Regions from separate parts of the Homo sapiens genome. Here region 1 is linked to region 2. The links come from fine-mapping of genetic effects on gene expression. Tissue or cell type: cerebellum. Region 2 holds a variant in brackets; the other region holds the start of a gene. All regions are shown on one strand. Distances are from middle to middle.

Region 1 (2,681 bases), 31 kb after region 2:
GGATGAGGCGAGGATGGAAGTTTGCACTGTGCATATAGGAGAGTCATTTCCTGGCTGGGACTCCGGGCTTGGTTTGGGGGTGGGGAGAGCTTGGTGGACAGAGCCCAGGAGGCCCCCAAAGCCAGGGGGAGGTTGTGAGCAGGGGAGTGCCTCGGTTAGGTGAGGTTTAAAACGACTCCCATGGCTGCTGTGAGGACTGACGGTGGGAGACCGAGGAAGAGGCGAAGGGTCCCCAGAGTGTGTGCGCCTGGGACGCAGTGGGGGGTCAATTTGTATGTACTGGAGGAAAGAGGGCAGGGCTTGGGGAGGCCAGCGCCACTTCCCTGGGATCCTCCAGCGCGCACAGGCTGTGTGCCCCTCCCACACTCCTGTGCCCGCCCTGCGGACACCACCAAGGCCCGGTCCTGTGGCCTGTGACACAGCCTTCTCTGCACAGCCCTGCAACGCCAAGACTTGAGCACACCCCCTCCCCTGACAGGCACACGCCCGTGTCCGCGTGACCCGCCCTCACACACCACTCCATCCTGTCCTGCACCCCCCACGCAGACACAGGCACACTCCCGCGTCCACGTGACACACGCACACCCGCCTCCAAACAGCACACGCAGGTCCCTGCGCACGTGGACACCCCCCCAGCCACCAGCCCTGCGCCTCCCGGGCCCCGAAGCCGCAGCGCCCGCCTCTGCCGCCCCCTCTCGCCCCAGCCAAGGCAGGACCCTGCGCAGCCTGAGCCGCGCGCCGCCGCCGCCCCATTCATCTCCCACCCCGCCCCCGGCTCCTGCAGGAAGACGCTCCGGCGGGCCGTGGGAGGAGCGCTCCGCGGAGAACCGCACGTGGGTGCCCCGGGCCGGGCCCACTCCGCACAGACGTGGCCTCCACCAGGAGCCGGGCGCGGGGGACAGTGCACCGGGGATGGATGCGGTCCGCAGACAGAAGCGGGGAAGAACGCAGACGGCGGGGCACCCGCGGCGATGCGGTCCCGGCGGCCGGCGCAGACCCGAGCAGACTCCGCGAGGCACCCCGCAGACCCGGCCCCGCAGACAGAAGGGGAAGGATCCCCGCCCTGACCAGATCCCAGCTCCCTCGTAGACGCGGCCTGGCAGACCCCCCCCGCCTCTCCCTTGCAGGCTCGGGGCAGGTGTTAAGGCGTTCGTCCTCCTGCTCCTCGCCCGCGTCCCCGCCCCGCCGATCCCTACCTGGGCGCCGGGCGACAGTGTCCGCGGCCCGGCGGGCGGCCCCACTCGCTCCTGCTGCGCGCCCCGCCCCGCCCCGCCCCGCCCCACCGCCTCGCTGGGGCCCAGATCGCCGAGCTCAGCCCGCGGGCGCCGCGGCTCCGGGCAGCGCTCGCTGCCCCGCCCACCGCCGCGCCCGGCCGGCGCTCATTGGTCGGAGCGAACGGCCCCGCCAGCGCCGCCCAATCGGAGCCCGGGACTCCCGCCCCCTCCTGGACTAAGGGACCGCGGTGGGCGGCGCGGTAGGGGCCCTCCCTCCCCTGCGGCGGGGCCGACCTCGCCACGCCCCCGGCGTCCTGGGGTCCCCGAAGTCCCTCCCGGCCGCGGCGTGGGCCCTTCTCCTGGGCCTGCAGGGGACCGTGCTTCCCCGCCAAACCCTTTGCGCCCCCATCCCGGCCTGCAGGAGCCAGAGCGCCCCTCCCTCCCGGGCGAGGCGCGGTGCGTGCGAGGGAGGGGCGAGGCCCGGGGAGGAAGGCCTTGAATGGCAGGCCCAGGAGTGTAGCTTCTGCGGGGCGGGGGCAGAGAGGCCGAGAGGTGGCTTAGCACAGAGTGAAGTGCTTGCTCGGTGAGCCGGCGACAGGAATGGCCTAGCGAGGGCCGAGGGAGTAGAGGGAACTCAGCAGGACAGTGAGGTGACCTTCGCTGTGGCTGTTCCTGGGGACTCTGCCGCCACCTCTTCCCCTAACGCCTCCGCGTGTGAATCCTCTGGCACCACCACTTGCCCCATATCCTTCCCCCAAATCTAACCTCCTGCGTCCCTGTCTCGAAGTGGAGCCAGGAGCCTGGGAGTCACCTGCTGCCTCCCTGTTTCCTGCTCCAACCAGTCCATCTCCAGGCCCTGCCATACTGCCTCTTAACTATCCCTGGAATCGGCCCACTCCTCTCCACCCCACTTCCCCTCCCTTAGCTCAGGCTACCACCATCTTGTCCCTGATTGCTGCAGCAGCCTCCTCCCTGGCCTCCAGCCCCATCCAGTCTCACCTCCTACTAGCCTTTCTCTCCCTGGCACCCAGAGCAAGTTTTCAGGAACACAAGTCCACCGAGAGGCATTTTCTATGGCTCACCGTGAGAATAGGTCTAATCAAGCCCTGTATAGCCTTACTCCCAGCCACCTGCCTGTTTAACGCCTACTCGTCTTTCAGGGTTCAATTCAATCCTACTTCTGCCTGGAAACCTTCTCCATGACCTCCCCACTTCCAGCATGGGTTAGTGGCCCCACCCAGGTACTTCCTTGTACCTGGCATCTGTTTACCTGCTGGTTCCTCATTGGGACTGGGAGCTCCTGGATGGCAAGCACTGTGCCTGATTCGTCCAGCACACAGCCTGTCGCATGGCACAGGTGCTCAGTGGATGTTGTTGAATGAATAATTCCAGCAACTTGAGTGTGGCTTTTGACCTCATGGTTCAGGATACCAGCTAGAGCTCCAGCAATCACATAACGCATTCCAG
Region 2 (2,681 bases):
AAGGCTGCTCCGGAAGAGCTGTGTCTGCACGCGCTCCAGCACCCCCGCTCTGAGCAGGCTGACTGCTGATGTCCTCAGGGTGAGGCAATTGCCGCAGAGGCCACCTGCCAGCGTGCACACCCCTCCAGGTTCTGTGTCTCGTGATCCCTCCGACCTGGACAGTTTGTCCTTCGTTGTAGGAGTGTGAGTGCAGCTCTTGGGCCCAGATGGGTAGGCCGGTGTAGGAGGAGAGGCTGGGTTCCAGTTATTTCAGCATGCGCAGGGCCACAGGCCTGTCGCGTCCATGGCCCTCGGTCAAAGTCAGCCCTGGTGTCTTCTCCAGCCTCAGCTCTAGGGGCATCATCAAGGGAGAGAGTGAGATGGGCAGGGACGATGTGGTGCTTCCGCTTCAGGCCTCTGCTCAGAGCTTGATTCCGTTCAGTCCACTTTCCAGATAACGCCGAATGCGAAACACAGTCCAGGAAAGTTAGTTCCATCCACTTGGCTGCCAAATAATCTTGGGCTGTGCTGGGAACCACGGAAGATGTAGGAAAGCTCGTGAGATGTTCCCAAGCAGGGCCTCTCCCCGAACCCCCAGGTTAAAAACAAAAGTAAAAGACAACAAAAAAGGAATCAGAATTCTCCAACACTGGCCCTGTCCCCAGTGAGGGGTCCGAGCCCCCATACCAGCGTCTGAATAGACAAGAGCTCTGGTGCCACCACCCCAAGGTGGGCAGGGTACCCCCCTCTCCACCATATGCCTGTGGCAGCTGAGCCAGGCCTGCCCGGCCCCAGCGGGAGGTCTCTTCCGTTGTGGTAAGCCTGGCCTCCACCTGCCATCTTGGTCTCCTGCCTCTGCCTCCTGCCCCAGGCCATGCCAACCAGCCGGGTGGCATTTCTGAGGCTCCATGGGCACCCGGTTTCCCCACAGAATGGGTCAGGCCAAGGAGGTCCAAGAAGAGGAGGATGGCCTCGTGGGAGCCCTGCCCCCAAGACCCCAAATGACATACATTCCAGTCTGTCCCTGGACGTGCGTGCGTGGAGGTCATGCAGCACGATGGGGGAGGGGCGGGAGTGGGGCTGCAGTCCCCAGCCCCCTGCCTGCGGGGGCGGCTGTTGCATGAGGGGTGGGCCTCTGGAGGCGCGGGATGAGTGTGCTGCCGGGTGGCCCTGGGTGCATGCAGGGGCTCAGGATGCAGCCTCGTCTTCCTGGACGCCGGGGAGCTCTGGGCTCTTGCCCCCTTCACCAAACCCTTCTTTCCTGTTCAGGGGACACCAGGGA[C/G]AGAGGGACCTCAGGGTCAGAATATGCACTCAGGGAGACACTCTCCCTCACACACACAGGAATCTGAATCCCACATCTCTCAAAGCCCCCTTCACCCACTGCCCCAAGCTTGGCCTCCCTCTGGCCTCCCTACATCACGGCAGTTGCTCCTTGCCGGTCTCTCAGCCCCCAGTCTCAGCCCGCAACGCCTCCGTGGCCCCCCATTGACCAGAGATGAAGTCTAAACCTCCCAGCACGGCCTCTGGAGCTGCTCACAGTCTGACCCAGCTGACTTCCCTACATCCTCCAACTATCAGCCTAATCAAGGGCCTTCTCTCTGTGTGTGTGGTTTTGTTGTTGTTTTGAGACAGCGTCTCGCTCTGTCGTGCAGGCTGCAGTGCAGTGGTGCAATCTCAGCTCATTGCAACCTCTGCCTTCCAGGCTCAAGCGATCCTCCCACCTCAGCCTCCTGAGTAGCTGAGACTACAGGCACATGCCACCACGCCCAGCTAATTTTTGTATTTTTTTATCTCTATAAAAACAGGGTTTCACCATGTTGCCCAGGCTGGTCTCAAACTCCTGGGCTCAAGCGATCCATCCACCTCAGCCTCCTAAAGTGTTGGGATTGCAGGCGTGAGCCACCGTGCCCGGCCTGAGGGCCTTCTGTGTTGACCTCAGTCATCCCCCAGCAGATCTGGGTAGAGAGGCTTTCATTTTGCATTTTTCTTTGCCTTGTTCACAGGGCAGAGTCCATCTATCAGTCTTGGGATTCTGTCACATATTCAACAGATTTCTATATCTAGTTTTCCTCCCAAAATGTCTCTTTTTAAAATAACCAGTAAATGGGTTTTGATATCTTTAAAAAGGACCAACTCCACTTAACTCTACTACTGAGTTTCTACAATTATCCCAAAGTATAAAAAACTCTATGGCCGGGCACAGTGGCTCACGCCTGTAATCCCAGCACTTTGGGAGGCTGAGGTGGGCAGATTACCTGAGGTCAGGAGTTTGAGACCAGCCTGGCCAAAATGGTGAAATCCCGTCTCTAATAAAAATACAAAAATTAGCCGGTGTGGTGGTGGCATGCACCTGTAATCCCAGCTACTTGGGAGGCTGAGGCAAGAGAACTGCTTGAATGTGAGAGGCGGAGACTGCAGTGAGTTGAGTTTGCGCCACTGCACTCCAGCCTGGGCAACAAGAGTGAAACTCCATCTCAAAACAAACAAACAAAAAACCAAAGCAGTCTATCAAGGATAAATATTGGGACTTGATGATGAAGTAAAATCTTCTTTCAAAGTTAAACGTGGAGGCTGGGTGTGGTGGCTCATGCCTGTAATCACCTGGCACTTTCGGAGGCCAAGGTGGGCAAATGGCTTGAGGCCAGGAGTTTAAGTCCAGCCTGGGCAACATGGCAAGACTCCATCTCTATTTTTTTTTTAAA

Evidence for each region. PIP is the estimated chance that this variant, and not a neighbour inherited with it, causes the effect.
Region 1: CAMKK1 starts here. The variant in region 2 is fine-mapped to the expression of CAMKK1 in cerebellum (GTEx, PIP 0.99). The same link has a PIP of 0.9 or more in cerebellar hemisphere.

What each region holds. Positions count from the first base shown.
Region 1 is chr17:3,891,743-3,894,423 of GRCh38, forward strand. It overlaps CAMKK1 (calcium/calmodulin dependent protein kinase kinase 1), which reads right to left and starts at 1,311. Exons shown (of 16, transcript NM_032294.3): 1 at 1,197-1,311. RefSeq lists silencers at 618-867, 1,008-1,187, 1,218-1,757.
Region 2 is chr17:3,861,044-3,863,724 of GRCh38, forward strand. CAMKK1 (calcium/calmodulin dependent protein kinase kinase 1) reads right to left here. Exons shown (of 16, transcript NM_032294.3): 16 at 1-1,240. The coding sequence ends at 1,168. Among named protein-coding and RNA genes, the nearest start is that of NCBP3, 16 kb to the left of the region's middle. The variant C/G (reference allele first, on the strand shown) is at 1,262.